2 separate regions of the Homo sapiens genome follow, and region 1 is linked to region 2. A link means that fine-mapping ties the variant in region 2 to the expression of a gene that starts in the linked region. Tissue or cell type: lymphoblastoid cells. Region 2 holds a variant in brackets; the other region holds the start of a gene. All regions are shown on one strand. Distances are between the middles of the regions.

Region 1 (9,864 bases), 48 kb before region 2:
CTATTTATCAAGTGAAATCTCAGATCTCCCTTCTGGTTACATACTAACTAACTATTTATGCAAGTAAGTTATTATATACCCTTTCTCATTAGGTTGTAATTTTTGTTTACAGAGGTTTTATCTGAGTTTGTGGTTTTTCCCAAAATACTAAGAACCTTGTATAGTAAAAACAATAAAATAACTGCCCAATAATAGAACTTAAACAGAGGTTCCGAAGAGAGCAACTGCGGAGATGGAGTCTGTCATATAATAAGATTGTAAAGATTAGAAAGCTTCTGTAGGGGAAGATAAAAACTAAGAGATGATTTCACCCTTTTATAAAATCTGAGAGTTGAGAAAAAAAACAGATTTTATAATCCTATCTAGAAGAGGCCCTTAAAGCCCAACAGCAAGTCTTAAAAAAATCAACAAGTATTACTTAATGGCGAGAAAGCCCAACAGCATCTGTTTAAAAAATCAACATGTATTACTTAATGCCAAGTGACAGATATATGAAACTTATTACCCTCAGAGATAGTACAGGTTGAGAATGACAGTTTCCTAGTAGAGTTCCTATAACTTACATACAATGATTCTCACAGAAGTGTTGAGGAACAAAAAGAGACAATTACAAATTTGGGGGGGGATGATTTTTAAAGTAAGACTAAGTCTATCCAGCCTGCAAGAAAAGAAGTCAAAGGAAAGTAATTTCAGTTTACAAATATATAAAGTATTTGTGAGGCAGTTCAGGGTATTGGATAAGGGCACAGGCTCTGGAGTCAAGCTGCCTGATATTCATTATTTAACTAAATGTGTCACTTACTTGACTAAGTTACTTAACTTTTCTATGCCTTAGTTTTCTCATTTACAAATGGAGATGACATTGTATCTACTTTATAGGATTGTGGTGGGAATTAAAAGTCAATACTTGTCCTATAATGCAATACTAAAAAGATAACCCAATTTAAAAATGGGCAAAGGATGTGAACAGACATTTCTCCAAAGAAAACAGACACATGGCCATAAGCACATGAAAAGATGCTCAACATTATTAGCCATCAGAAATGCAAATCAAAGCCACAATGAGCTTTCACATTCACTAGGAAGAATATAATCAAGACAATAAAGGCTGGCAAGGATGTAGAGAAACTGGAACCCTCATGCAGTGCTGGTAGTAATGTAAAATGGTATAGCCATATTGGAAAACATTCTGGCAGTTCCTCAAAAAGTTAAACATAGTTACCACATAACCCAGGATTTCCACTCCCATATATACATATGTATAAAATATACACACAATGTACACACATTTTATATACAATATACTTATATATGTCTACACAAAATCATGTGCCCAAATGCTCATAGCAGCCAAATAGTAGAAAAATCCAATGTCTATCAACTGATGAATGGATAAATAAAATGTGGTTATCCATTCCTTACAATGGAATATTATTCAGCAACAGCAAAAAAAGAAAGTACTAAAAACATGTGACAACATAGATGAGCCTTGAAAACATAAGTTAAAGAAGCCAGCAACAAAGGAGCACATATCGTATGATTTCATTTATATGAAGTGTACAGAGGAGACAAACACATAGAGATAAAAAGTAGATTGACTGGTGGTTGCCTAGGGCAGGTATGCCATGGCATGAACTGGGGGTTGATTATCACACGGTACATGGTTTCTTTTTTGGGGGCTGAGAACGTTCTAACATTGACTGTTGTGATGGTTGTACAACTCAGTGAATATGCTAAAAACAACTGAATTATACAATTTAAATGAGTGAATTGTATGATATATGAATTATATCTCAAGAAAGCTGTTATAAAAACAAGTCAGTGTGTGACTTAGGACAGTGTGTAATACACAAGTGCTCAATAAAATGTAAATTATTTTTCAAGTGGTAACAAACTAATTTTAAAGATAAAAGAAATATTTCAAAATGGAAAGAGTAATGTATTTTATACATTAAAAAATTACTCACACATTAACATCTATATAGCATGAGAGAACTTTTCAGAAATGGTGAAAATATTCTCTATCTTAATTGGGATATGAGTTACAAGTGTTTGGCAAAATTAAGAGTATCTGCATTTCACTCTATGTAAAATAGTCTCAATCAAGAAAAAACAAAGCCTGAATATTCTATCCAGCCCTCATTTTCTTAATAATGAAAATCAAAGGCAAGCTCAAAGACTTGGAGTTTGTGTCATTCTTTGACACTAAAGGCTGTGTGTTTGTCATTCTTAAACAGAAAACACACACATTTAAAAAACATCTGCATGGCTTAGAGAAAAGGAAATTAACAATTTTCTCCAACTTTCATTTTGTTCTTAGATTTCAAATAAAAATACTTTTTCCATTTTAAAAAATTATGTTTTCAGGATATAGTATGTCCAGAAAATATATACATATATTTTTAAAAAATCAAATCAAACCTTTAATGCTATAGGATCAAGATTGAAATCCCAAACATCTCCAATTGAGTCATCCAGAGCGTCCTCAATTCTTCTCAGTTGAGAGGTATACTCCTCAAGAAATTTCCCATAATTCTTAAGTTGGACTTCGGCATGAATTTCTAAGTTTAAATTTTAAAACAGTATGTGATAAGTGCAAGTAATGAATTGCAGGACATTTACTTCAAATAACCTCAAAAGTCACGCAAAGCACTGTTAATTATTACTCTGGAATGTCTGGACTTCCTGAAAATAAAGTTCCAAAGTTAAACAACAATTCAGCTTTCAATCTTCTCTATACACGAAATAATTTTAAAAGCAGTAGATGTTACCATATATAAAGTTACTACCTTAAAACCCTAACATATTATGAAAAAGCCACTAGCCCATCTACCCCCATAATAGAGGGCTTTGAACCAATCTGAAAAGTGCCTTAAACAATTCAATGTCCTGATTCTATCTTTTAGTCATGAACAACTCTTTTGCAAAAACAAATATTCATGATCTGAAGGTGAAAAAAACAGTCTGTCACAGAAGTAACACTTAAAAATGTAGTTTTTAATTCTATACACACTAATGTTTAATAATACACCTAAATATTTTTAAATGGAGGTTTTATACCTGCTTGAGCATATTATTTCTATAATGTCTAAAATTTAACCAAGATATTTGTTAAATTATTTAACTGTCATAATCAAGTTGGAAAAACCAGCAAAGAACACTGCTTGACTACAGAATACTATGCTGTTCTTCACAGAATTAACACATTCATAGGTAACTTTAAGGAATCATTGGAATAAGCTGGATTTTAAAATATGCCTATTCGTCAAAGTATTTCACGTTACACATAAAAATTCATTACTTGTTCCCAAAGGTAACAAATTCAACTCCAACTCAGTTTCTTTTATTGATATGAATAACTTTATTCAACCTTTGTCTTCTAAAAAAGGTAAAAATTTGCTCTCCTCAAATTAGCAATGTGAAGCAAGTAAGAGAAAGTGTGTTCTGACTCATGCTGTATTAAAGTATAAAGACCTAGCCCCCACTCTCCTTTATTCTTCAACCACATAAAGTTTTAAATCCGGTGAATCCATTTAGTTCATTAAGGTTTCTGTCTTATTATAGCATTAATCTAGGCAATTTTGGAAAACAATTAGTCTAGATATGATTCACAGACCAAAAATTAATGAACGCCAAGCACAGGGAGGTGTTCTCTTCCCTACAGCTTACATATAAGACTGCCCAGATTCTCAGAACCCCAAATAGTTGTCTTATTCTCAACTACACAGGAAATGACCAGTCAAAGCTGCATTTGACCAGCAAATGACTTCTTAAAGACAATGCTAGGCCGGGCATGGTGGCTCACCCCAACACTTTAGGAGGCCAAGGCCGGTGGGTCGCTTGAGACCAGGAGTTCAACATGGCAAAACCTTGTCTCTATCCCAATTTAAAAAGAAAAAATCAGCCAGCTACTAAGGAGGCTGAGGTAGGAAGATCACCTGAGCTCAGCTGGTCGAGGCTGCAGTGAGCCGTGGCGATGCCACGGCACTGGGCGACAGAGTGAGACCTTGTCTCGAAAAAAAAAAAAAAAAAAAAAGACAATGCTAGAGAAACACCACGCCAATAAATCACTCCTTTAGTATGTTCAGGGATTCACAAACAGGAAACAGAAAACCTAAAATAACATTAAAAGTTCCTTGCTGACAATAAACGGTTGTAAAATTGGTGAAAGTTAAAATAACAAAAGTTGAGATAAGAACTACATGGTAATTTTTTAAGAGTAAAAATTCCAAAAACCTACTTAACATGCTCATCTTTGTCAACAGACTGCACTCCTTGTTTTATCTTTTTATCCCTAATATCTAGCACAGCCACTGGTTGTAGAAAATATCTGTTGAGTGAATCAGACCATTCTACTCCAGGCTGAACCATTTTCAAACTCAATTAACATAACTCTATTCCAATTTTTTTTGAAGATACCAGTTCGTCATCTTTGTCCATAAAACATATATGACAAGGTACAGTTCACTTTATAACAATACAGAATCCCCTCCACAAAAAAAAATTAAAAGATTTTGTCATTATCTCCAAGGTTAATTTTTATGCTGCATAAGAGCTAATACCTTATTATCACCCAGGCTAGAGTGCAATGGCGCGATCTCGGCTCACTGCAACCTCCGCCTGCCGGGTTCAAGCGATTCTCCTGCCTCAGCCTCCCAAGTAGCTGGAATTACAGGCGCTCGCCACCAAGCCCAGCTATTTATTTTTTAGTAGAGACGGGGTTTCACCATGTTAGCCAGGCTGGTCTTGAACTCCTGACCTCAGGAATGTTTTGTGAAAAACTGCAACCCATCCTGGATGTAGCTCACTCTTCTCTGAGAGACTTGTAAAACCTAATTCATCTAACATTGTAGGCATTAGTCTCTCTTCGTAAATCAAGCAAAATTCATCCGGAATTTTTAAAAGCAACGTTCCACCTTTTGGGAAAACTATGAGGGAAAAAAAAAATCACAAACAGCATGCTCCAATCTCTCTTAGATCACTTACACAGATTACTATGACCAAAGATAAGAAGCAGATTGCCAACTTGTATTTATTTCAAGTAGAGTTTCACTACAATTAATTTGGCCTCAATATTTTACTGAAAGAAACACAATTTGTTTATTTCGGGATAGACTTCTAAGTTAAAATCAGACAATTCGATCTTGTGAAGCAAAATTTGAAGATTTGCTGTAATTTTTGAAGCCTTTATAACTGCGATGGAAACTGCAGAACATCACTGAAAAATATCACTTAGCATAAATAAAAGGCCTGGAAAATGATAAAATGACATTCACGTGTTTATTTTCGCAGGGTGAAAAGTTCTTTTTTCGCTCCCTTCTACGGTTATAGCAACGCGATGGGAAAGACACCCAAACTTGCAAAAGTTGATTTGGGAGGAAAAGAAGAAAAACAGGAAACCGAAACAGGAACCCAGACATCAGCGTCCTCCAGAGCTGAACGCTCAGAATCTGGCGAAATCCCCAAGAGGCCAGAGACAGAAGCAGCCTGGGATCCCGGGGCCGCTGGGCCTCCCGGGCGCGCCCCGCCCAAGCCCCGGGGCAGCTGAAGGGGGACGCCGCTCCCCGCGGGGCACCGCAGGCTCCCCAGGAGAGTCTCCGCCTCACACGCCGAGCCCTGAACGGGCAGCCTGACCCGCCGTGGCTGGGACCCCAACCCCGAAAGTAACGCTGGAGAGCGCGTCCCTCGCACACCCCAAGGGCTCTGAAGTGTCCCGCACCAGACGGCTGCGCAGCCGTCCCTCTCGCAGGAGCGCTGCCCAGCCCAGAACAGCGGCGGGCCGAAGGAGCGTCCACCCGCAGCCCTCGCCCTGCAGCTCCCTTACTCTGCGAGCCGTCGTCAACGCGGTCAAACTCCCAGTCCGGGGACAGAGTCTCCACCGCCATCACCCCGGCGCCTCCCACAGACACAGCCCCAACCAGCCCGTGCGGCGACGACGGCCTCACCCCAGCTACTGTCACAGCACGTGACTTCCGGCCCCGGCCCCGCCTCCGCTCGCGAGGGCCGGCCGGGCTCGTTGCCCCTGCGACCGCGGGGGCCCCTGGGAAAGCGAGTCCTCCGCCGTGGCCGAAGGCGGCCGCCATGGCGCCGGCAGTGCCAGCGGGCGTCTTGCGACCCGGCTCGGGCTTCGCCACCATTCACTGTGCTTCTCAAGCCACTTCGGCACTCTAATTTCGCCCTGCTCTCTCTAGACGATTTTTAATACCTGGGAAAGTTACTCCCCAGTCTAACCTAAAAAGGTAGAATTGATGGGGTGGGGAATTAACAGGAAGGCATGATCCTCGAGGATAACGCTGACCAGGCGCTTCTTCCAACAAGCCTGTTTCCCTCTCTGTCGCCACCGTAGGAGTTCCTACAGCTCTCCCGCACATTCTGTACGGATTGTTTTTTAGTCAAGACGTTCTGTGCGAGAGGAGAAGTTACTTTATGAACACCCTAACAGGGGATCTTACGACCTCTTCCCCGCTCTCCACTCAGTCCTTTTAAAAACGCGAGGCAGGATGAAGAACGCTATTGAAGTACATTCTAAAATGATCCCACCTGCAATTTGGATTTTTGGAGAATCGGGATCGGTGTAAAATTCTACATGCATACACGTATTTGCACAAGAATATTTATAGCAACGTGGTTTTTAATAGGAAACTATCTAAATGTTCATTACAAGTGAATTACATAAAGCTCAATACATCCATACTACGAATCACTGAAGAGCTGCTAAAATAGATGAAATATATTTATAATGGCATGAACAACCGACACAAGACAGTTGCAGAGTAATGTGTATTTGTGATTACATTTATGTTTTTAAGTTATACAAACGCGTATGTGCCTACGTGTATGTAAATTCATAGGAAGACAAATCAGAGGACGGTGGTTACCTGGGGAAAAGCATGTGTTGGTGAGTAACAGGATTTTCAAGTTTTGATGTGTCTACTTATGTGTTTTGAATCCTTAACAATGAGAATTTATTAGGGTTTTACTCTTGTAATCTTAAAAAGTACCGAAAAGAACTAATCAATGTAGGCAAAAGGTCTATTGAAGAGCATTCTTCTGAGGTCATTGGATCTGCCCTGAGTTAAATGTTTATTGAGTGCCCACTGGGTACCAGGCACCAGGCTAGATGCAGAAACTATAAAACATGTAAGAAAATTGCTTTCTGACCCTATGGCAGACTTAGTGGGCATTTCAGAAAGAAAAAAAAAATCTTGAAAAGAACAGGCATCCTTAGGGTCTAATGGCTGACAAACTTTTTTCCTGTACTTTCTGTGTGACCATGAGTTTGACTTTCCTGGATTCTTAACATTTGCATTAAATCACTGTAATTAATCTCCCAGCAGCTCATTGTGATAAATTGAACTTACAAGTCAGAAAAATTTGAGTCTATAAATACACTAATCTATTAAAGTTAATAGATTAGTAGCAAGAGGCAGTGTCATGTAATAATTGAAAGCACAGTTTTGACTGCCAAATTGCCTAGGTCCAAATCCTGGCTCTGCCACTTACTAACCATGTGATCTTGGGTCACGTAATTTAACCTCTGCCTCAATTTCCTCATCTATAAAATGAAAATAAAATAAAACTAGTAAACACCTTGTGGGATTCTTACGAGGACTAAATTAGTTAATACATATAAGGTACATAGAACAATACCAACCACATACTGTACCAGGTTGCTATTATGAATCAATATAGATTTATCTTAAAAAGATCTCAGAAGTCCCAGATCTCACAAGTCCCAGTGTGGTGGCTCATGCCTGTAATCCCAGTACTTTGGGAGGCCAAGGTGGGTGGATCACTTGAGGTCAGGAGTTTGAGACCAGCCTGGGCAACGTGGTGAAACCCTGTCCCTACTAAAAATATAAAAATTAGATGGGCATGGTGGTGCCTGCCTATAGTCCCAGCTACTCTGGAGGCTGAGGCAGGAAAGTCGTCTGAGCCACTACACTCCAGCCTGGGCAACAGAGCAAGACTCCATCTCAAAAAAAAAAAAAAAACTCAGGGATTTTCTGTCTTGATCTTAAATATGTTTAAATCAAATTTCACAGCCTATAATTTCAAATTTTGTTAGAGAATTACAAATTAGATACCAAATAGAAAAGCACATTCACTAAATGAAAAGTGCTATCTGAAAGTTATTTATAAAAATGTCCTATTGTTCTTAGACGTAGTCTGCAGAAGGCAAATCATTATTTTAAGTAATCACATATTCTTCATTCTACTACTCTTCATTCACACGGTACTTTCTGAAAAGCAAGCTTGGAAATAGAAGGAGAAACTTTTCATATGGGCAATATTGTGCTATTCTGAGAGCTTCTGTGAACTTTAGAACAGCTGCCTACAGAAGGTGCCTGCCTGCCAGTTCCTAGGAATCTGTGCCTTTAACTTACAGCCCCATATACCCACACCTTAAGTTCTAGTTTATTCCATACCAAAATATTTTACATATATGTTATATAGCTAAGTTCTTGGTGAATTTGTTTATTAACTTACATTAAAAGTCTTCTTCCAACTGCTATTCACCCCAGCAATCCCATTACTGGATTTTTACCCAGAGAAATGTAAATCATTATACCATGAAGATACATGCATGGGAATGTATCTTCCCATTGCAGCACTATTCACAATAGCAAAAACATGGAGTCAACCTAAATGCTCCTGAATGACAGATTGGATTTTTAAAATGTGGTACATATATACCATGGAATACTATGCAGCCAAGAAAAAGAACGAGATCATAGCTTTTGCAGGAACATGGATGGAGCTGGGGCTGTTATCCTTGGCAAACTTAGCACAGGAACAGAAAACCAAATACCACATGTTCTCATTTATAAGTGGGAGCTAAATGAGGAAAGCTCATTAACACAAAGAAGGAAACAACAGACACTGGAGGCTAACTGAGAGTGGAGGGTGGGAGTGGAGAGAGGAGCAGAAAAGATAACTATTGGGTACAGGGCTTAATACCTGGGTGATGAAATAATCTGTACCACAAACCCCCGTGACATGAGTTTACCTATGTAACAAACCTTTACATGTACCCCTAAACCTAAAATAAAAGTTTAAAATAAATAAATACAATCTAAAATAAATAAAATCTTCTTCCTACAATAGAAATTCTATGGCAATAACTCACTAGAGACATTTCACTTAGTAGTTTGTCACAGAATCCTGCGTGTATCTGTTTAAAAAATTCCTAATATGTTAATTCATGTATTTATTTACAAAGTAATCCCTCACTTGAACAACCACTATAGATGTGTGACAGGTCTTCTCTCTCCACTGTCCACATTCTCTGTGTGAAGCTTCTCGAAACCTATCTGATCAGGTCATGCCCTTTTAGATCCTTCCCATTGCCTATGGTATGGAATTTATGCTTCATAGCATGTAACTCAAGGCTTCTTCCAATCTGCCCTTTTATTTAAGGGATCCTAAAATCCTTGTACTGGTTGGTTATCAGTGATTGTGGAATCATATAGATTACCACTATATGTATTTTTAGTAGAGACGGGGTTTTGCCATGTTGGTCAGGCTGGTCTTGAACTCCTGACCTCAGGTGATCCGCCCACCTCGGCCACCCAAAATGTTGGGATTACAGGAGTGAGCCACTGCGCCCAGCCTAGATTACCGTTATATCTAATTCCCTGAATTCCTGGTTGGACCAAGTGCTTCGGCCCTGTGCTTCCATGGTATTTACCACTTCAAAGTTATCTATTGACATAATTATCTTCACTATTAAGTTATGTATTAGTTTCCTATTGCTGCTGTAGCAAATTGTCACCAACTTAGTGGTTAAAAGAGTACAAATTTATTATCTTCTAGTTCTAGAGGTCAGAATGCCAAAATCAGTCTCACTGGGCTAAAGTAAAG
Region 2 (11,457 bases):
CCTCGTATACCCCAGCCAGAAGAAGGGGCAACATATGAAGGTATCCAGAAAAAGGAAAATGCTGAGGTATTTATATATCAACTCAATAACACGTCTCAGAGTTCATGGCCCTCTACCCTTCAGTAGTTCCCCACATACTATGATCTTGCCAAAAGGTAAGCCAGCTTGCCCTAGCCCTACCTGTTAGAGTAGACAGGTAGCCAGACATACGCAGGAGAGGGGAGTCCCCTAAAGAAAATAAAGTCTAGGAAGACTCGTGTCTGGAAGACCACTCAAAATTTGCATATTAATAGTATCTCTAATGCTGGAGTGGGTGGGCACTTAGTCAAATGTGCATAGAAAGGAGAGGAGATACTATGCAAACAAACAAACAAACAAGCAAATAAAAAATGCCCAGAAACGCCTCTTCAGTCTGCCCAACAATCCTTCGCTCTGCAGTTAAAATGTCAAAATATCACTAGCTACATGCTAATGAAAAGGGCAAAGGGGATATTCCTTAAAAAATCTGGCATGCTAGGTGCGCTGGGCACAGTGGCTCATGCCTGTAATCCCAGCACTTTGGGAGGCTGAGGGAGGAGGATCACTTGAGACCAGGCATTCGAGACCAGCCTGGCCAACACAGTGAGACCCCTGTCTCAAAAAACAAAAAACAAAAACCTGGAGCCATAAGTTCAGCTTAGGGCAGAGAAGGAAATTCCAAAAAAACACACAGATGCAGTAGGTATAGATTTGGCCACTATACAACCTCCCTGCAGTGACAATAGTAAACAACACAGGCATCAGGTAATATTCATATCCAACACCAATCCACACATACACACCAACTAATAATATGGAGGGTCCCATAAACCTGAGACAAAATCTAGGTGCGGACAAAGCAGAGAGCTAAGACAGACACAAACAAACTAGACAAAAAAAAAAAGAGGCAGAGACTTAACAGAGGTGGGAACTTCAAAAAAAAGTTCAACCTAATAAAAACCCAACATAAAACTCTCCAACAGCTACTGGCCTACTCCCCTCAACAGCCCGCTCTACTTCATCTTTACAAAGCATACTGTCCCTTTAAATAACCCTCTGCTTTTTATTTTCCTTTAATAAAGTCTCTTGTTTACTAAATCAGCCACCTGACAAAATACTTACTCCAAATAAAACTAAGAAGCAAAAATTCCTTTATTTCCCAATAACAAGTGTTTCTGCCTCTGATGACGAGAAGCGTTTTTATTGCCTTTGAGGTTCACAGCCATAGGAGGCTCAGCCTGTATTTTGTGCCTTCCTAGATTTCTTGGGACCAGTCTGCCGAAGTTTTACATAACTGGATTCGAGGTCATGATAAAGTCCCTGGAGCTTGGACAGAGATAAATGGACAGGTATGTTTTAGGGACCACTCCCCCCACCCCCCTCCCCGATTATTACCTTTGTAAGAGATATTACAGATAAATCTGGGCTTCCCATGGTTCTTCCTTGGTCATGAGGCAGGTCTGTGATTCACTCTCCCCTTTACTCAGCATGTATTAAGCATTTATTGTGCAGCAGACACTAAATCCAGCGCCTGATCTAAGGAGCCTGCAGTTTTATGGGGAGTGCAGAGAAGTGAATAAACATTCTCAGTGCAGTAAGATAAACGCTATCATGGAGGCTGAGACTCAGGCATGTTAGGAAAGGCTTCCTAGAAAAGCTCACTGCTTTGCTCGAGAAGAGTTAACCAGGTTGAGAGCAAGACAAGTAGGTGAAGCCCCAGAGATAAGAGACTCCAGCACCTGGTCAAGGACTTGCAAAAGGAGTTCAGTGAAGCCAGGGTCTGAACTGTGAGGACAGGCATGGGGAGAGCTGAGGCGGGAGAGGCGGGCAGGGCCTGAAGGGTCTTCTATCCATGGGTAATTGACTCAGCCCAGGCTCTCAGGTTTCACCTCTTCGGGGAGGTTTCCTGATCTCACATGCCCAGACTGGCAGGGTCTGATGGCCCATCTCTGGGTTCCAGCAACACTCTGCCTACCTCTGGCATCGCACATCATATATTGTGAGGGTCTCTTTATTCCCCCCAACACTAGACTGTGAACTCCTTAGGGGCAAGGGCTTCATGTGATTGTCTTGATAATCTCAGCAGTTAAGCAGGAGTCTGGGTACATACTAAGTGCCAATAAAAATCCATGGGCTCGATGGGTGACCAAGGGAGGGAGTTTAGTGTAATGGTTAAGAGTGCAGGATCTGAAGCCAGAATGCTTCTATGAAAATTTACTGTGTAACCTCGGGCAGGTTTCTTAACCACTGGGTGCCTTGGTTTCCTCAATGTAAAATGGGACTAATAATACTGCCTCCCTTAGGTTATGGGTAATTGTGAAGATTAAATGAGTTGGCCAGCCATGGTGGCTCACACCTGTAATCCCAGCACTTTGGGAGGCCGAGGTGGGAGGATTACCCAGGTCAGGAGTTCGAGATCAGCCTGGCCAACATGGCAAAACCCTGTCTCTACTAAAAATACAAAAAAAAAAAAAAAAAAAAAAAAAAAAAAAAAAAAAAAAGCTCGGTGTGGTGGCATGTGCCTGTAATCCCAGCTACTTGGGAGGCTAAGGCAGGAGAATCATTTGAACCCGGGAGGCAGAGGTTGCAGCGAGATTGCACCAGCCTGGGTGACAGAGCAAGACTCTGTCTCAAAAAAAAAAAAAAAAGAATTAATACATGTTAACTCATTTAAGTACTTAGCCCTGGGCCTAGAGTAAGTATTCAACAAACCATTATAGCATAATCATAATAGTGCTCCATAAATGATAGCTGATCATCCTAGAAGTGCAATAATAATGCAGTCAGCGTCAGTGTCTCTTGGTTACTCTCTGGATCCAATCCTTTTTCCATGAACTGACTCACAAAGCACCCTGTGCTTCTCATCACTTACCACCCTGCACTGTAATAGTCTGGTGACCACTGTGCATTGCCCATCATTGACGCCCACCCCCAACACCTCCCCACCCACCCAAACCCTACCTTCAGGCTATAAAGGCTGAGAGCTTTTTATCTCATTCACCTTTGTATCAATGCAAATATGTGATAAATGCATACTCATGTCACCTGGATGTGGGGCATTTTGGACTCTCCAGTGACATATTCACAGACTATTTCTTGCCTTGTGTCATTTCTTTCTTTCTTTCTTTTTTTTTTTCTTTGAGACAGAGTCTGGCTCTGTCGCCCAGGCTGGAGTGCAATGGCACAATCTCGGCTCACTGCAAGCTCCGCCTCCCGGGTTCACGCCATTCTCCTGCCTCAGCCTCCCGAGTAGCTGGGACTACAGGTGCCCGCCACTATGCCCAGCTAATTTTTTGTATTTTTAGTAGAGACGGGGTTTCACCGTGTTAGCCAAGATGGTCTCGATCTCCTGACCTCGTGATCTGCCTGCCTCTGCCTCCCAAAGTGCTGGGATTACAGGCGTGAGCCACTGTGCCCGGCCACCTTGTGTCATTTCTATGGATGTTTGAGACAGTTTCTCCCATTGTGGTGTCTCAATTTTATTACAGATGATAATATGAACTTCAGCGTTTTTGCAGAGAATGATGCTTATACATACCGCTATGAACAGCTTTTCTCCTGATTTTACAATCTGTGTTTGATCTCTTTACTAGATGGTCACTTTCTATGGCTCGACATTACTGAATAGCTCTGTGCCTCCTGGAGAACCACTGGAAATTAAAGGTGCCAAGAAGCCTGGTCTCGTTACCAAAAATGGACTTGTTCTTTTTGGTAACGATGGAAAAGCAGTGAGTGTTAAATATGGCTGCCTATGAAATAACCTTTTGATTTTCTTCTATAACCCAAGCTATTAAGGGAATAGCTTTCACTCCATTGCTGGCTGGGGAGGAGCTGGCTCTGAGTGCCCTGATGGAGATGAGGTGTCTCAAGATGGGCCCCACAGATCTGCATAGGCTGCCTTGTGTAAAGTGGAAAGAGGCTGGAATTCAGTGGGGAGATAAGGATGTGAATCCCTGCTTCCCACTCGCTGGTCTTGGGCAGGATGATTCTTCCCTTTGAGTCTGTTTTGCCATCTTTATAACAGAGAGGAGAATCTTGTCTGTCTGCCTTCCCAATGCCAGATTCTGGGAGGATCAAGTGAAATAGATGTGGCCCTCCTCAGATGCCCCTTGCCACTGATCCACCAGACAGGCACCACCTAAACTGCCTATGCTCAGGAGGGTTGGCCCTGGGCCTCAGTGTGCCCTTGCGAAGCTTCCCAATGAAGCGTGCAAAGGGAATTTGTAGCTTACAGATATTTTCCAGTTGCTGCAGGATAAATCGTTAAGACTGTAGGCCGCTAGTTCCAGGTTCTACTCCCAGCTCTTTTACTTACTGTCTGTGTGGCACTGAGCAAATTACTGAACCTCATTGAGCCTCCCTTTCTGCATCAGTAAAATGGGAATAATAATGGCATCCGCCTCCACTGGCTTTTATGAAATTAGGTAAGATCCTTCAGCACATGCATGCATTCTTTTTTTTAGTATATGTGCTGCTGAAGCAAGCACTTATGCATGCATTCTTGAGCATGGTACAGGGCAAGTGCTCAGAGGCAGCAGCTGCAGAGTTGCAGCAGCACTGGTGGTGTCTGTTATTTTCATAATAGATTCTAATTCAAATACCTACGTCCAAGTGTCAAATTTTCCAGGACTTATTTTCCATTTTGAGATGTACCTATCCCTGGACCTCACTTTTTCCTTTCTGCTGCCATTATTCAAGTGCCATTTCAGCCCTTTTACACATAATGGTGAATGCTTTTAATCTGTATTTTTCCAAATAAACTTGCCCTTATATGCATATAATCTATAGGACTCCTCCCACCAGCCTCACTTTTGTATTGTCTCAATCCTCAATTTTTATGCTTGTTTTGTTGCTATTTTGTAGCTGACGGTGAGAAATCTGCAGTTTGAAGATGGAAAAATGATCCCTGCCTCTCAGTACTTTTCAACGGGTGAGACGTCAGTGGTAGAACTGACAGCTGAAGAGGTGAAAGTGGCAGAGACCATCAAGGTGAACACATGATGACTTAAATCTTACTGTTACCTTGGAAAACTGAAGCATGTTCGTAACTGGTACCATCAGTCCTCAAAGTAGTGGGATCAGAACTTTATTTCCTCTTTTTTTGTATTAGCTGCAAGAGGAAATCAACCTCCAAATTCATATGCTTAAACACAGTATATACAAACTGATTTTTCACATAAGTCATCCAAGGCAGTTCCAGGTTGGCACGGGGGTTAGGGGTGAAGTCATTCAGGAACCCAGTTTCTGTTATTTTCAAGGTCTCCCTGGGGGGCGTCTCTATTCCAGACAGCCAGAAGGGCAAAGGAGCATGTAGAATGGCGTGGAGGAGGTTTACATGGGCTAGGACTGGGGTGGTGCAGGTCACTTCCACTCCTGTTCATTGGTTGCATCTAACTTGGAGAGGCGCTGAGAAATGTGATCCAGCTGTATGTACAGCTGAGTGTACAAGATGAAGAGGGAATTGGTTTGGTGAAGAGCTAGCCCAGTCTCTGCCACATTGTTCTACGTGGCACTTCCCTCATAAGAGTTTCCTTTTTGTGTAGGTCATCTGGGCTGGAATTTTAAGCAATGTCCCCATTATTGAAGACTCAACAGACTTCTTTAAATCTGGAGCAAGCTCAATGGATGTTGCCAGGTAAAACCACGCCCTTATTGACTCACTAGGGATTCCCTCACTAGAGATTTTGACTTTGGCTTTGACAGTGAAATCCACACACATCCTTTGTTCTGGATGTGATTACCTTATCATACCTATCTATGACTCATCTTTTTTTTTTTTTTTTTTTTTCCTGAGATGGAGTTTCACTCTTGTTGCCCAGGCTGGAGTGCAATGGTGCGATCTCGGCTCACCGCAACCTCCGCCTCCCAGGTTCAAGTGATTCTCCTGCCTCGGCCTCCCGAGTAGCTGGGATTACAGGCATGCGCCACCACGCCCAGCTAATTTTGTATTTTTAGTAGAGATGGGGTTTCTCCATGTTGGTTAGGCTGGTCTCGAACTCCTGGCCTCAGCTGATCCGCTTGCCTCGGCCTCCCAAAGTGCTGGGATTATAGGTGTGAGCCACCACGCTCGGCCAACACATCTTTATTCTTCATCTTTTTTTGCTATTGTTTCCATGGTCAAGCAGATATATCCGTTTA[G/T]TTCTCTTTGTTGCTAACCAGAAGTTGTTTTCATATCTTCCGTATACCTAAAAAAGCAACCCTTAGAATTGTTTGCATCTTTTAAAAATTTGTCCTTCCAGTTTCTTAGCTAATTTTCCTCCAATATGACATCAGAATTGAGAAGCTCTGGGTGAGAATGCTAACAGTGAATTTCCTACGCAGCCTGATCCAGAATATTATCTGAATAATATCTGACACCTGATATTAATAATATTACCAGAATAATATCTGATACCTGATATTAATTATGCTTTCCCCCAAATCTTTTTTCTCCTACCCTCGCCCCCCCCATAAATTACCTAGTAAGACAGATCTAGAATGAGGGTTATCAGGCTACTTGCAAGGACAAGTGTAATCACCCAATATCAGAATTTCTCCACAGAGGTTTAGAGCAAGTTGAAAGGGCTGGAGTCCCAGAAAGCCTCTATCGCAAGGAAACTGGACCAGGATCCTACTGGTGCAGCATCTTTCAGAGGTGTTTTTCTTCGAGTAACTGGGATAACAAGACAGCTGGAGCTCACCAGGGACTGTGCAGTCCCTTGATGGTGGGTACAGAGAATAGAAGCTAAGAGGATTTGATCCTAGGCCACATTGTGGCCATACACTAATTAAACAAGGCAAAAATGTTCCTCCTCTTGATAAAATCCTTCATATTGACAAAGCAACGTTCCTGATGAATATTCTATCTACTCACTCATTTACTTAACAACACTGACTGAACACTTACTACATGTCAGGAACAGTTTTAGCACTGGGGATACAGTGTAAACTAGACAACGTCCCCTTTATTCATGGAGGTTTTATTCCAGAAATCAAAAACAATCATTTCAAGAGCACATAGTGTTTTCAAAAGTCAAGAGTTTCGGCTCCTCAAATTATAGATTTCTCAGCTGTGATTCATGAGTTCCCAGAAACTTCTAATTGGCTTAACTAAATATTTCAATACTACATTATGATGATTATTATTACAGATAGGGCCTCACTCTGTCGCCTAGGCTGGAGTGCAGTGGTGTGATCACAGCTCACTTGCACTAGCAGCCTTGCACTCCTGGGATAGCCATCCTTTCATCTCATCCTCCCTACTAGTTGGGATTACAGGCATGAGTCATCACACCTGGTACATCACACACAGTACTGTATTATTATTATTATTATTATTATTATTATTATTATTATTATTATTATTATTTTGAGACAGAGTCTCGCTCTGTCGCCAGGCTGGAGTGCAGTGGCGCAATCTTGGCTCACTGCAACCTCCGTCTCCCAGGTTCAAGCGATTCTCCTGCCTCAGCTTCCCAAGTAGCTGGGATTATAAGCAAATGCCACCACGCCCAGCTAATTTTTGTATTTTTAGGAGAGACGGGGTTTCACCATGTTGGCCAGGGTGGTCTCGATCTCCTGACCTCGTGATCCACCCGCCTCGGCCTCCCAAAGTGTTGGGATTACAGGTGTGAGCCACCGCACCCGGCCAGTACTGTATTATTAATACTTTTTTTTTTGCTAGCAAGATACTCCTGCAGGAATTACTCATTTTCTGTTTGAGTGTCTGGCTTACCATAATCATCTGATATTATTATCTTGATTACAAAGGTATCATCTCTTTTAGAGAATAAATGATTGAACCACAACCATGGTGGACTTTCTACACTGTACCTCGTACACCACTGCTATTCAAGAAATGTCAGATAACAGCTGTAATTTGACAAACTAACAGTGGAAATCAAAGGATTGGAAAGGACTTCAAAAGTTATACTGACCTACTGCATATGGTTCTAGCTAGTACCTATGTTAACTACGTAATACAAACAAATGTCCATCTTATACTTGTAATTTAGAGAAAATAGTCTACAATATGACATTCATCTCTCATAATCTTTACAGTTAGGAAAGTGTCTTTGTTTCTTATTCCCTGAGTATATATGAAAGGAAAGGAGTTGACTTTATATGATCCTTGCTACCTTGCTTATAAGTAATTAAAATATTTTTGCCTTGATTGCTTTTATTTTTAGTCATGGATAAAGTTTTAAAAAACTGCCACTGTCCTTCAAGATATATTTTTAATTTCTTGCCCCTAGTCTTATCAATTTCTCTGATGAGTATCACAGAAGATCTCATAGGATATAAATAGGCATGTGATGTAAGTCTTACCTCAAAACAACTTGACAAGTGCAAATAACACAATCTTCCTAACCCCTTTTAAAAATCTAAGTAACGCGAAGCTGGTTTTTACTTTAAGGCTGGTTGAAGAGATCAGACAGAAATGTGGTGGGCTTCAGTTGCAGAATGAAGATGTCTATATGGCCACCAAGTTTGAAGGCTTTATCCAAAAGGTCGTGAGGAAACTGAGAGGAGAAGATCAAGAGGTGGAGCTGGTTGTAGATTATGTAAGCTTTTCCTTGATGTTGCAACCCTAAATCAGTGAGATCCATACACTATAAAAGACTGCTGTGCCTGTTGCCCATTTGTTTTTATATTTATGACCTTTAAAAAACAACAGCTTTACTGAGATCTAATTCAGATGGCATAAAATTCCCCTTTAAAATGTGCATTTTGGGTAGTTTTTAATATATTCACAGGGTTGTGCAATTATTATGCCATCCAATTTTGGAACATTTTCATCATCCCAAAAAGAAGCCCTGTACCCATTGGCAGTCATTCTTTACTCTTCCAGGACTACCTCATACAAAAAATGTTCCAAAATTGGATAGCATGATAGTTCCTAGAAAATGCTAACCTCTTTTCTGTCTATGGATTTGCCTATTTTAGAGATTTCATATAAATAGAATCATACAACATGTGGCTTTTTGTTTCTGGCTTCTTTCTCTTAGCATAATGTGTCCAACGTTCATCCATGTTGTATCATCATTTCATCCCTTTTTTTGGCCAAGTAATATTCTATTGTATAAGTATACCACAGTTTGTTTACCCATTCATCAGTTGATGTACATTTGGGTTGTTTCTACCTTTTGGCTATTATGAATAATGCTATGAAAATTCATATATAAGTTTTTGCATGAACATATGTTTTCAAGTCTCTTGGGTATGTACCTAAGAGTGGAATTGATGAGTCATATGGTAACTCTATGTTTAACTTTTTTGAGTAACTGCCAAACTGTTTTCCGAAGTGGCTACACCATTATGTAATCCCACCAATGTATGAGGGTTTCAACTTCTCCATATCCTCGCCAATATTTGCTCTCATCTGTCTTTTCTCTTTTAGTTGTCCTAGTGGGTGTAAAGTGGGATCTCATTGTGGTTTTCATTTGTATTCCCTAATGACTACTGATGTTGAGCATCTTCTCATATACTTATTGGGCATTTGTATTTCTTCTTTGGAGAAATGTCTGTTCTTTCAAATCCTTAGCTCATTTTAAAACTGGCTTGTCTTTTTATTGCTGAGTCTTAAGCGTCCTTCGTATATTTTCGATACTAGATCCTTATCAGATGTAAGATTTGCAAATATTTTCTCTCATTCTGTAGATTTGCTGAAAACTTTGAGTGTCCTTTGACACACAACAGGTTTTAATTTTGATGAAGTCTAATTTATCTATGTTCTTTTGCCACTTGTGCTTTCTTGTGTCTTGTCTGACACCTTTTTATTCCTCAATTTCTCCCTCACTGCTTTCTTTTATGTTAAATATGTCTAGTATGCCTTTTTAATCCCTTATTTTTAATTTAACTGTATTTTTAAGCTATTTTCTTAGTGGTTGCCTTGAGGATTATAATTAACATTTTTGCTTAAAATGATCTAGTTCAGATGAACACCAACTTAATAGTATAGGAAAGCTTTGCTGTAACATAGTTGTTGCATACTCCCCTAATTTGTGCCATTATTGTCATATGAATTATGTCTTTATACATCATGAGCCCACCAACAGTTTTATAATTATTGCTTTATGAAGTTGTATTTTTAATGAGATAGAGTTAAAAAATATATTTATACCAATGTTTATATTTACCTGTGTAGTTACCTTTACCAGTACTCTTTATTTCTTCATGTGTTTTCAAGTTAATTGTCTGGTGTTCTTTCATTTCAACTTGAAGGATTCTTCTCAGTACTTTTTGTAGGCCAGGTATGCTAGCAATCAATTTTCTGTTTTTGTTCACTTGGGAATGTTTTAATTTCTCCTTCATTTCTGAAGGATATTTTTGTTGGGTATAGAATTTTTGGACGGTATTTTTCTTTTATCATTTTAAGTATTTCATCGTATTGCCTTCTGGCCTTCATGGTTTCTGATAAGTCAACTGGTAATTTTATTAAGGACTCTTTTGTATGATGAGTTCCTTCTCTCTTGCTGCTTTTGAGATTTTCTCTTTGTCTTTTGATAATTTGTTATGATGTGTCTAGGTGTGGAGCCTTTGAATTTTCCCATTAGAATTTGTTGAGCTTCTTGGATTGTGCATTCTTGAAATGTGCAAATTAATGTTTTTCATCAAATTTAGGAAATTTTCAGCTATTCTTTCTTCAAATATTTTTCCTTTCCCTTCTCATTCTCCTCTCCTTCTGGGATTCCTTTTATGCATATGTTGGTATAGTTGATGGTATCCCATAAGTCTCTGAGGCTCTGTTCATTTTTCTTTATTCTTATTCCTTCCTGTTGTTCAGGCTTTTTTCACCTTCTTGAATTTGCTATTGGGTCCCTCCAGTGATTTTTTAATTTCAGTTATTGCACTTTTCAACTTAAGCATTTTTATTTGGTTCTTTTTAAAATAATTTTTATCTCTTCATTGATATTCTCTGTTTGGCAAGACATTATTCTCTTTCCTTTAATTCTTTAGACATGGTTTCCTTTAGTTCATTGAACATATTTACAAAAGCTTATTGAAAATCTTTCTTTAGCAAATCCAATGTCTAGGCTTCTCTAGGGATGGTTTCTATTAGCTGCTTTTTTTTCACCTGTTTATAGGCCATACTTTCCTGTTTCTCTGCACGTCTTGTAATCTTTTGTTGAAAGGTGGTCATTTAAAATAATAGAATGTGGTAACTCCAGAAAGCAGACCTTCTCCCCATCTCCCTTCACAACATTTGTTGCTGTTGCTGCTGCTGCTTTTTGTTGTTGTTGTTCAATGACTTCCTTGACAATTCTGTAAAGTCTTTATTTTTTATTGTTTGCCACTACTGAAGTCTCTGTTCAGTTACTTTAATGGTCATCTAATGATTGGGCATAGATTTTCTTAGACACCTTGAGCCAATAAGTCTCCCAGCATTTGTGAGGGGGCTCTGTGTGTGTGCTGGGATATACCTTCAGTGCTCCAGCAGGCAGTTTACAATTCTGCCTT

Alleles and levels. Positions count from the first base shown, and alleles are read on the strand shown. Sizes are in standard deviations (SD) of each study's normalised expression.
For the expression in lymphoblastoid cells of the gene that starts at base 5,955 in region 1, T is the high allele of the variant in region 2 and G is the other (small effect, 0.34 SD a copy in GEUVADIS).

Evidence for each region. PIP is the estimated chance that this variant, and not a neighbour inherited with it, causes the effect.
Region 1: it holds the start of WASHC4, and the variant in region 2 is fine-mapped to the expression of WASHC4 in lymphoblastoid cells (GEUVADIS, PIP 0.95).

What each region holds. Positions count from the first base shown.
Region 1 is chr12:105,103,822-105,113,685 of GRCh38, reverse strand. It overlaps WASHC4 (WASH complex subunit 4), which reads right to left and starts at 5,955. Exons shown (of 33, transcript NM_015275.3): 1 at 5,825-5,955; 2 at 2,422-2,561. The coding sequence starts at 5,885. LOC414300 (a long non-coding RNA gene) reads left to right here and starts at 6,044. Exons shown (of 2, transcript NR_121211.1): 1 at 6,044-6,898. RefSeq lists enhancers at 3,689-3,848, 5,687-5,846 and silencers at 5,407-5,656, 5,867-6,146.
Region 2 is chr12:105,055,177-105,066,633 of GRCh38, reverse strand. ALDH1L2 (aldehyde dehydrogenase 1 family member L2) reads left to right here. Exons shown (of 23, transcript NM_001034173.4): 5 at 1-66; 6 at 1,278-1,367; 7 at 3,612-3,746; 8 at 4,882-5,007; 9 at 5,562-5,653; 10 at 8,414-8,561. Among named protein-coding and RNA genes, the nearest start is that of ALDH1L2, 24 kb to the left of the region's middle. RefSeq lists an enhancer at 4,938-6,137. The variant G/T (reference allele first, on the strand shown) is at 6,157.